2 separate regions of the Homo sapiens genome follow, and region 1 is linked to region 2. Evidence: fine-mapped expression QTL. A gene starts in region 2. The other region holds a variant in brackets. All regions are shown on one strand. Distances are from middle to middle.

Region 1 (4,382 bases), 26 kb before region 2:
CAGGAAGAAAATCATGGTGAGAACTTCTCAGAAAGAATCCCCTGGTTGGCTGGGTGTGGTGGCTCACGCCTGTAATCCCAGCACTTTGGGAGGCCGAGGTGGACGCATCACCAGAGGTCGGGAGTTCGAGACCAGCCTGACTAACATGGAGAAACCCTGTCTCTACTAAAAATACAAAATTAGCCAGGCATGGTGGCGCATGCCTGTAGTCCCACTCAGGAGGTTGAGGCAGGAAAATCATTTGAACCTGGGAGGCAGAGGTTGCAGTGAGCCAAGATTGCGCCATTGCACTCCAGCCTGGGCAATGAGAATGAAATTCCATCTCAAAAAATAATAATTAAAAAAAAAAAAGAATTCCCTGGTTAACTAGTCACATGGCTTAGAGGTTATTAAACTGATGGCTGCTGTCCCTCCCTAGCAGTGTATGCTGGTGACTCAGCGCCAAACGTGCCAACTTGAGCTGTGATTTCTTTTCCCAAAGGCAGTATGTTGATTCTCTGACCTTTGAATCTTTTATTTGGTCACAGCCATGGATAAAGAAATGAACCTGGAGAAGCAGCGTAGCCTCTTCCCTAGAGGGACTTAAGTCCCAGCTCTGACAGGGACCAACTGTAGAAGCCTGAGCAAGCCCTTCCCCTCTCTGGGCCTCACTTTGCACATCTAAAATGAGGGGAATTAAGCTAGATGTTCTCTAAAGTTACTTGCAAAATTCTCTATTTTTGTATACAGTATTAATTTGCCAACTCTTGCTAGATTTTCATCAACAGTGCAAATATCTGTAAAAGATCAAAGTCACTTCTGGTGCCAATCATCAGGAGCAGGGTGGCCAGGGTGACCTCTTCCATCCAAGCCATATTTTGCTTTCACTCTTCCACTTGAAGCCTGTCACAGTAGCAGCTAGTCTTTGACTGAGGGTGTACGATGGGCCAGGCGCTGATTTAACCACTGGGCCTAGATTCATACATGTAGTTCCCCATGATCCAAAGAGGTAGGTACCATGAAAGGTACTATTGTCAGCTCCACTTTACAAAGGGAATTGTGAGCCAGAGAACGGAAGTCACTCACCCAAGGTCACACAGCTAGAGCACAGCAGACAGAATTCTCACCAGGCAATCTGGCTTTAGTCAATTCCTATTGAGCTCCTATTATGTGCATATAATAAAAGACACTGCAAAGAATCAATATTTGGGGACAACTGTGATGGTATTTATGCCATGTTCAAAACTAATTTCCCCTTCTTCCTGAGAAGCTGGGGGAAATTCAGGACAACTTGAATTTCCTTTGTCAATATTCTATATACCTGCCAACGAGAACATTAGCAGATTGTGCAAGGAGGCATGGTTCTCCACACAAATACTTTCTATTATTGCTGAATCAATAGCTCTGGTGCTCAGTTTGAGAGAACTATATTTCTGAAATAAAGAGAAAGAAAATTTTACTCAGAAATTCCAATTCTGCCTTCACAAACAGCCTCCCGGTAAGAGCAGTGGAGGCGCGGGTAGTTGATGGCTAGATGGGCTCTGAAATTCAGCAGGAGGACCAGGGGCGGGGGATGGGTGAGTGATACTCTCATAGCAAGCCCTGGGAAAACAAGAGAGGTATTTCTAAGGACCTGCAGGCGCTGCGTGGCCCTTCCCACAGAAGGGCACCATAGCACAGTAGTTAAGAGCATGGACTCCTGACCCAGACTGCTGGGTCAACTCCTAGATCCACTGCTTATTATTAGAGCTGTGACCTTGGGCCCATGACCTCAGCTCTCTGTGCTTCAGTTTCTTCATCCCTAAAACACAGGTAACAATATGGTTTTATATAGGGATTATATACATTTATAGGGTATATCTGAAAGGATTAGAATTATGCCTACCAGGGACCAAGGCTATGTATGCATTAGCTGTTATTAATACAGTTTCAGGTAACTCACCAAGCCCTGTATTTGGAAATGCAGAAGTCAAGGGTTTAGATGGGTGTGGGATTTAACTTTCCCATTAAATATGCTTCCTTCTAAGAATAGCATTGTGATGGCCTTCCCAGAGCGTGAAGCAATGGGAATGAGTTTCTTTCCCTTTTTTCTACCACCCAATCGTTTCCATCCTTTGATTCCCCTGGGATCCTTTGCCACAGGTTCCAGCCCCTGTGACCTCCCATCCCTCTTGCACAATCTCGCAGCCTCCAGCTCACACCCAGCCTAGGCTGTTCCCTGACTGTGGGTAAGTCAGCCTCCCAAGAATGAGGCTGGATTTTTCCTCTGCTTCTCTTCCTCCCCCCATCTCATCTTCATGGATGGGCCTGGGTCTCCTCTTCCCATATTTCCTGATCAGAGCTGGCACACAGCTGGGCCCACAGAAGAAATCAGAGTCCAGGAGTTCGAGACCAGCCTGGGCAACATAGAGAGACCCCTTATCTACCAAAAAAAAAAAAAAAAAAACCTGGGCACAGTTGGTCCCAGCTACTTGGGAGGCTGAGGTGGGAGAATTGCTTGATCCTGGGAAGTGGAGGCTGCAGTGATCTATGATTATGCCACTGCACTTCAGCCTGGGAACAAGAGCAAGACCCTGTCTCAAAAAAAAATAAAAAAAAAAAAAGAAGAAGCTGGGACTCTGACTGGAGGGGGCC[A/G]TGAGAACATGAGCTCCCTGGAACACATACATGCCCATGGAGGTCACTGAACCCCCTCAGGGAGGCAGGATAGCGTGCTCACAGCAACTTGAGTTAAATCTCAAAGGACAGCTGTCACCACATGGTAAGAGATATGGATGAGGGAGGCCAAGGAGAATGCAGCCCTCACACAGTAGGAACACGGCTTTCCTCCTTTCCCCAGACGGAAGGCAGGGCAAACAGTGGCTTCGGTGTTGTTCTGTTTCACTCCTTTCTTTGGGCTTCAATTAGTTAAACATCTCCCCTTGCTTCTGGCTTATTTCTAGCCTTCAGCATTATTGATAACTTCGGTGTATCTTGGGAAGGTGGGAGGGGTGAGCCAGGAGGTGCTAGTTGCAGCTATCATACTTCCACGTCCCCTACTTCGCATTTTTTCAGGGCTTTGTCTAATTCCAGGAATAACTGAGGGCTGTGGAGAAGAGATCAGAGTGGAAGAAAGTGGATCCCACCCTTCTCTACTGACAGCCTAGCTCAGACTACTCACCGGCAGGCTATGATGATGATCAGAGTGTCTGCCTGAGAGGCCATCAGCCCCAGCCCAGGGAGTAGCCGAGCAGAGACCAGGGAACCCCTGGCAGGGAGGCTGGATCCGTAAGAACGTAAACATGACCCAGGGGCAATGTAAGGCAGCTCAGCCATGGAGACGATTCCATTTCACAGATGAGAAACTTGAGGTCCAGACGATGAATCCCTTTTCTCCAAGGGCTCACAGCCAGTAAGTCTTACAGCCAGACCGGAATCCTCCCTCCCAGTTCAGGCTCCAGGCCAAGTGAACTAGGCAGAGGACAAACCTTGCAGGCCGCTGGCTTCACTCTCACACTACCCCACCCAGCCCCACCAGCCACCAGGAGAGCACTCTGAAGTCAATGTGGCATTCGGCTCTGGTTTCCTCTGGCTCTCTCCTTTGTCCTCCCATGGCCCAAGGGGAGGACAGCTGTTCTGGACACAGGTGACTCCATTACAAAAGGCCACCTCCTCACCTTGCCAGTCTGATGCCACTGGCCGGTGGTCTTGTCCCTGCATTCAGGTGGAAATGCCCCCAAGCTGCCCAGCCACTGGGCCTGACATTTGCCCAGTGAAGGGCTGAGTCCAGGATCTGCCAATCCCGTCGACCACTCACCTTTTATTGACCTGCTGTCTCAGGCTCTTGCCCTCTGGGGAGCCCCAAGCTCAAGGCCCCACAACATCACCCTGCCGTAGAGGCAGCGTGGCCCAGAACAAGAGGAAGAGACATGTGTCATTGATTTGTCTCACTGAGCAGGCAGAAAAAGGTTGGGGAGAGGGCCAGCTAAGTGGCTGGGGAAGAAGCCTTCCTGGGGGTGGCCTTCCTGAAAATGCCAGGTCCCAGGCCTCATGGGGCCTTGGTTTCTCCACCTGTGAGATGGAAGCATGAATCGAGTGACTGTCAAGGTCCCTTCTGGCTGCAGTGTTCTCTGGATAGCAGCATCTGGACCAGGACTCAGGCCACCATCACGTCCCTGCAGAGTCTGCTGCCTGATCTCCCTGCCCCTGGGCGTGTCCCAGCCAAGCCATCCTCCACCCTATTCTTCCCACGTTCCAGCCCTTGTCACTCCCATGGTGGAAACCTCCAAAGTCTGCCTTACCCAGCCCACATGCCCCAGGCCTGCGCTCTGCCCACGGCCCTGCCTCACCCTAGTAGTCCCCCTTTTATGGACTGAATGTTTGTGTACCACTCCCCCACCCCAAAGCCAAATGATGAAATCCTAAGC
Region 2 (4,382 bases):
TGTTTGTTTGTACTTGGATTTAGTAAAATTGAGGGAATTTTGGGGCTCTTCCCAATTTCTTCCTCATTTGCCTGTTTGCAGACACTAAAGTGAGCTGTAAAATCAATTTGTTCCCAAACTGCTACCTTTTCTAGTTTTCCCTCTGTCACATCTCGAATGACAACTGTGCCTATAATAATAAGATCCATGAAGAAATGGCCCCACATCCAGGGGACCTCGGGTCTGTGGGTCTGTGGGTATGTGCTCAGACCCCAACTGCTCATTCAGGATGCAGAACAGCCTTTGACTCTGCCACTGAAATGGTCACTTCCCAGAAGAATCTTTGGTATGTGAGCTCTCCCAGTTAAGAGCAATCCAGTTCACCCAGGCCAACCCTCTGTTCTGCAGAAATCTGCATGAGATGAGAAGTCCCTGGCCTCTGGTCATTGGGAGCACACCACCTCTTGACATAGCTGCATCTATAGGTGCTTTAGGCACCACCTAGGTGGTGGCTGCAGTAATGAACAAGGATAATAACTTAAGCTTGGCTTAGGATTTCTCCCTTCCTCTGTGCTGCACCGTGCTGTGTGAAGGGCTATCCCTTGTATATGAGGGACACTATTGCCCTGTGAATACATGGGCTGACCTGGCCAGCCACCCTCTGGCCTGTGTGGGACCCTGGGTAACAGGGCTCAGTCTAGGAGCGGAGGGTAGGACTCTGCCTAGGTCCTCCCCTGCTCCTGGCACTGGATAATATGAAGACCAAGGAACCTCTACCTCTGCAGCTGCCCAGAGCTGAGCCTGGGCTCTCACTGTCCATTCAGGAGGCAGAGGGTAGACCTGGCTGGCTGCTCAGCATCTTGTTCCTGCCAGTCAGCAGGCCCTGGAGAGATTCCAGGGCTCAGCCCTGGTCTTAGTGTGGTCTCACTCGCTCTGCCTGGGCAGTGACAGCACCATTAATATGGAGGCTGGTGAGAGCGGAGCACACAAAAGCAGCCTGCCTGCTGCTTTGCCTCTCTCTGCCCAGGGCATGGTGCTAGTTCATGGTGGTTTCAGCCTTTCCTAGCAGCTTAGGTTTATGTGGAGGATGGCAGGGGAACAGGACTGGTTTCTGAGACTAGGTTCCAGCTCTCCTTGCCCTCTAAAGATAGAAACAAACAACACACAACACACATGTATGTCTTCCCCAGACTCTCCGTCTCATAACTCAGAACCAGAGAGTCTCAGAGCTGAGAGGGGCCTCGGGGAAGATTTCACTGATGGAGAAAGCTCCAGAAGAGAGGGCAAGCATCCTGCCTGGGGTACCATGGCAGGGAGAGCAGAGTCAGAGGCTGGACCAAAATGCAGCCTGAGTGGAAGCATGCCTTACCCCAGGCCCTGCTTCCCGAGCCCAATGCCCCACTCAGCTGGCAGACACAGCAGGCCCGCCCTGGGCACTCTGAGGGTGCAGCCACAGCAGATCACCAAGGAGGCATTCTGGGCCAGGGTGGGGTGGGGGGCCTGGGCAAGTTCTCTGGGGAGGTTTCCAGCTCCTCCACACCTGCTGTGGGGCCTGATTCTCCCCGCCCCTGCCCCGCTACTGGTGTGGAAACCAGGGTCAGGTGAAGCCCTGCCCAAGCCTTGAGGAAGAGAGACACATTCTCACTTCTTCCTTTATTCTTTCTGGTGCCCAAGGCACTAACAACTGGGTGTATAAAGCCTTCCAGATAATTTCAGCCAATTTCTCCCCTAGACTTACTCCATCTGATTAAATGGCCACCCAGTCACTCAAGCAGGAGACCTGATGTTATCCCTGCCTCTGGGCTCCTACTTAAAACCAGCCACCCACTCCAGTTCCTCCTCACCAGGTCTGGCTGCCCCTCCGAAATCTCTCTCCATTCCAGCTTCCACGGTCTGATCCAAGGACTTCAACCCACTCAGGCCACTTGATCTCATTAGACTCATGGGTGTCTCCCTGCTTCCCTCCAGGCCTCCTCGATACATTTCCTTCCCAGAGGCTATGGAGGCTTTTGGAGGATGCAGATCTGCCCATGGGCTCTCCGTCTCTGCCTCCCTCCAGTGTCCTCGCTCAGGGAGGGGAAGCTCAGGCGGAAAGCTGCCGAACTTTGGGTTGCGGCTGTCCCTCGATTAGCAGAGCTGCGGTGTTCTCCTCGGGCAGGCGGGCAGGTGGGCGCGCTTTGCTGCCCCCTGCAGCTCGGGGGCCTGCGATCCCCGCACAGAGCATTCCGTCACCCCAGGCCCACGCTCTCCAGCCCACCGCCCTCCTCTGGACGCCGCGAGTGGAAGAGAGCTGCGAACTGAGAAGCCGTACTTTGGGCAGGGTGGAGGGCCCGGGGGCTGGAGACTGAGCCCCTCCGAGAGGAGCCGCCCGGCCCCGCCCCCCGGCGCAGCCATTGGCCGCGGCGGAGCGGCTGTACCCGCAGCTCCGTGCACTCGGCGGCTCCTCTCCGGGAAGGTCCCCACTTGACAGCTCTGGGCGACCGGAGGTGGCGCCCAAAGGCTGCCCGGGAGATCGGGGCTGGGCTGGCGGGGGCCAGGACCCCGCGCCCTCTCGGCCGCTCACTCTCGCGTCCACTCCCTCGCAGTCACGCCGGGCGCGCACTCCCACTCCCTCTCCGCACGCGGCTGCGGGACGCGATGGACGCGGCACTGCTCCACAGCCTGCTGGAGGCCAACTGCAGCCTGGCGCTGGCTGAAGAGCTGCTCTTGGACGGCTGGGGGCCACCCCTGGACCCCGAGGGTAGGCGGGAGGCGAGCGGTCGGAGGCTGCGCGGGCTCCTTCTCTCGCGCGCTGGGTGCGCCCCTGACCCCGCGCTCCGAGAGCCCCGCGTCCCTGCGGGCCCCTCTGAGCCCTACTGCGCTCTCTCCCGCCGCCAGGTCCCTACTCCTACTGCAACACGACCTTGGACCAGATCGGAACGTGCTGGCCCCGCAGCGCTGCCGGAGCCCTCGTGGAGAGGCCGTGCCCCGAGTACTTCAACGGCGTCAAGTACAACACGACCCGTGAGTGCCCCCGGCCCTCGCTGCCTGCTCTACACCGGCCTCCTGAGAAGGCGGTTTAGGGAGTAAAGAGGATTCCGGACCCAGCGGTACAAAGCTGCTGACGGCCGCGGTACCGCGGACCGCGGGCGTTAAGGACCCCTTACAGTGTTGGGGGCGCGCCTTCTGCTTCTACCCCCAATACAGCGTCTAATCTCAGTAAGCCAGTGATTTGCCCACAATTCCCGTGCTCCATGCGGTGACAGCCCAAAAAGGGGAGAAGGAAATACTTCCTCCTCTTGGAGTGTAAACCTCCTTCCCTCATTGTAGGTTCCCGTTGCCTGAAGTTCCCCATTAGGGCTTCATTGTTTAGACAATGCTTCCCCTGCCCAGGAGGGGGACCTATCCCAGGAGGGCGGATATGCTAAGTCCCAAATCCCCCAGAGTGAGTGCAGTGACCAGACCCTACTACCAGAGGGGAGGAGGAGGGTAGGAGGCAGGAGGGCTGGGGCGAGCGCATGTTTCGTGGGGAGGACATGCAGGCGTAGGTTCTGCTAAGCCAGAGGGTGCGGGGTGTTGCATCTTCCCTAATCCGAGGTCCCAGGACTGACCTGCTGGGCTGAGTCAGGGGCTGTGGGCAGCATTATTCCTGCGCCCCCATAATGAGTGGTGTCTGAATCAGCACCCCAACACCATCTCTCAAGGAGAACAACCTGTGCCTGCCTTCCTCCTGGCAAATCATGGACTGGCTTGAGGCTCTGGGGAAAAGGGCAGTAGAGGTTGCTGGAGTTACACAGCCTCCAGGTGGGGTCGTTCAGTGTGGGTTCTGGGTGTGTGCGTGTGGGTAGGTGCCTGTCTGTGCCCTGTGGAACATGGGATGGGAGCCAGGTGTGTGGTCTGCGGGAGGCTGTGGGGGCAGCAATCACTGCCCCACCTAGAACCCCCCTGATATCTCCAGCCGGACCCCAGTTGTCAAGCACGCTGAGACCCTATCTGGATTGTTTGTCTGAAGCCTCTCATCCTGGAAACATCCTCAGAGTGTCTGTGTCTGATTGGTAGCCCAGCTCCACCTCCACCACACATACACACACACACACACACACACACACACACACACACAAGCTTTCAGAAGCTGAGGCTGAGGGCTTTGCCATGAGAGATGGTTAGAAGGCAAGAGAGATGTACCTGCACCTGATGCCAAGCCGCACTCTCCTGGCTGCACCAGCTGAGGGCTCTGGTGGGCCCAGGGAGCACATGCTTCCCATCCATGATTAAAACAGATCTCCCTAGAAGGAAGTAAGATCCCCAAGCTAGGAGGTGTGCAAGCAGAAGGAATGATTTCCCTGTGCCTTCCTAGTCCTGACCTTATAAAACTGTATTTTTAGGATTCCGTGAGCTGTGTGGGGTGGGGCAATGGAGATCAG

Alleles and levels. Alleles are on the strand shown, and positions count from the first base shown. SD is a standard deviation of normalised expression in the study named.
With allele A in place of G in region 1, the expression in thyroid of the gene that starts at base 2,441 in region 2 is lower (large effect, 0.75 SD a copy in GTEx).

Evidence for each region.
Region 1: its variant is fine-mapped to the expression of CRHR2 in thyroid (GTEx, PIP above 0.99). The same link has a PIP of 0.9 or more in aorta, atrial appendage, breast, coronary artery, esophagus mucosa and esophagus muscle.

What each region holds. Positions count from the first base shown.
Region 1 is chr7:30,706,939-30,711,320 of GRCh38, reverse strand. The region is part of intron 1 of LOC105375220 (a long non-coding RNA gene); the gene reads right to left. Among named protein-coding and RNA genes, the nearest start is that of CRHR2, 27 kb to the right of the region's middle. RefSeq lists an enhancer at 3,382-3,882. The variant A/G (reference allele first, on the strand shown) is at 2,614.
Region 2 is chr7:30,680,515-30,684,896 of GRCh38, reverse strand. It overlaps CRHR2 (corticotropin releasing hormone receptor 2), which reads left to right and starts at 2,441. Exons shown (of 12, transcript NM_001883.5): 1 at 2,441-2,719; 2 at 2,857-2,982. The coding sequence starts at 2,617. It overlaps LOC124901608 (a long non-coding RNA gene), which reads right to left and starts at 2,278. Exons shown (of 2, transcript XR_007060275.1): 1 at 1,824-2,278. RefSeq lists a silencer at 2,370-2,419.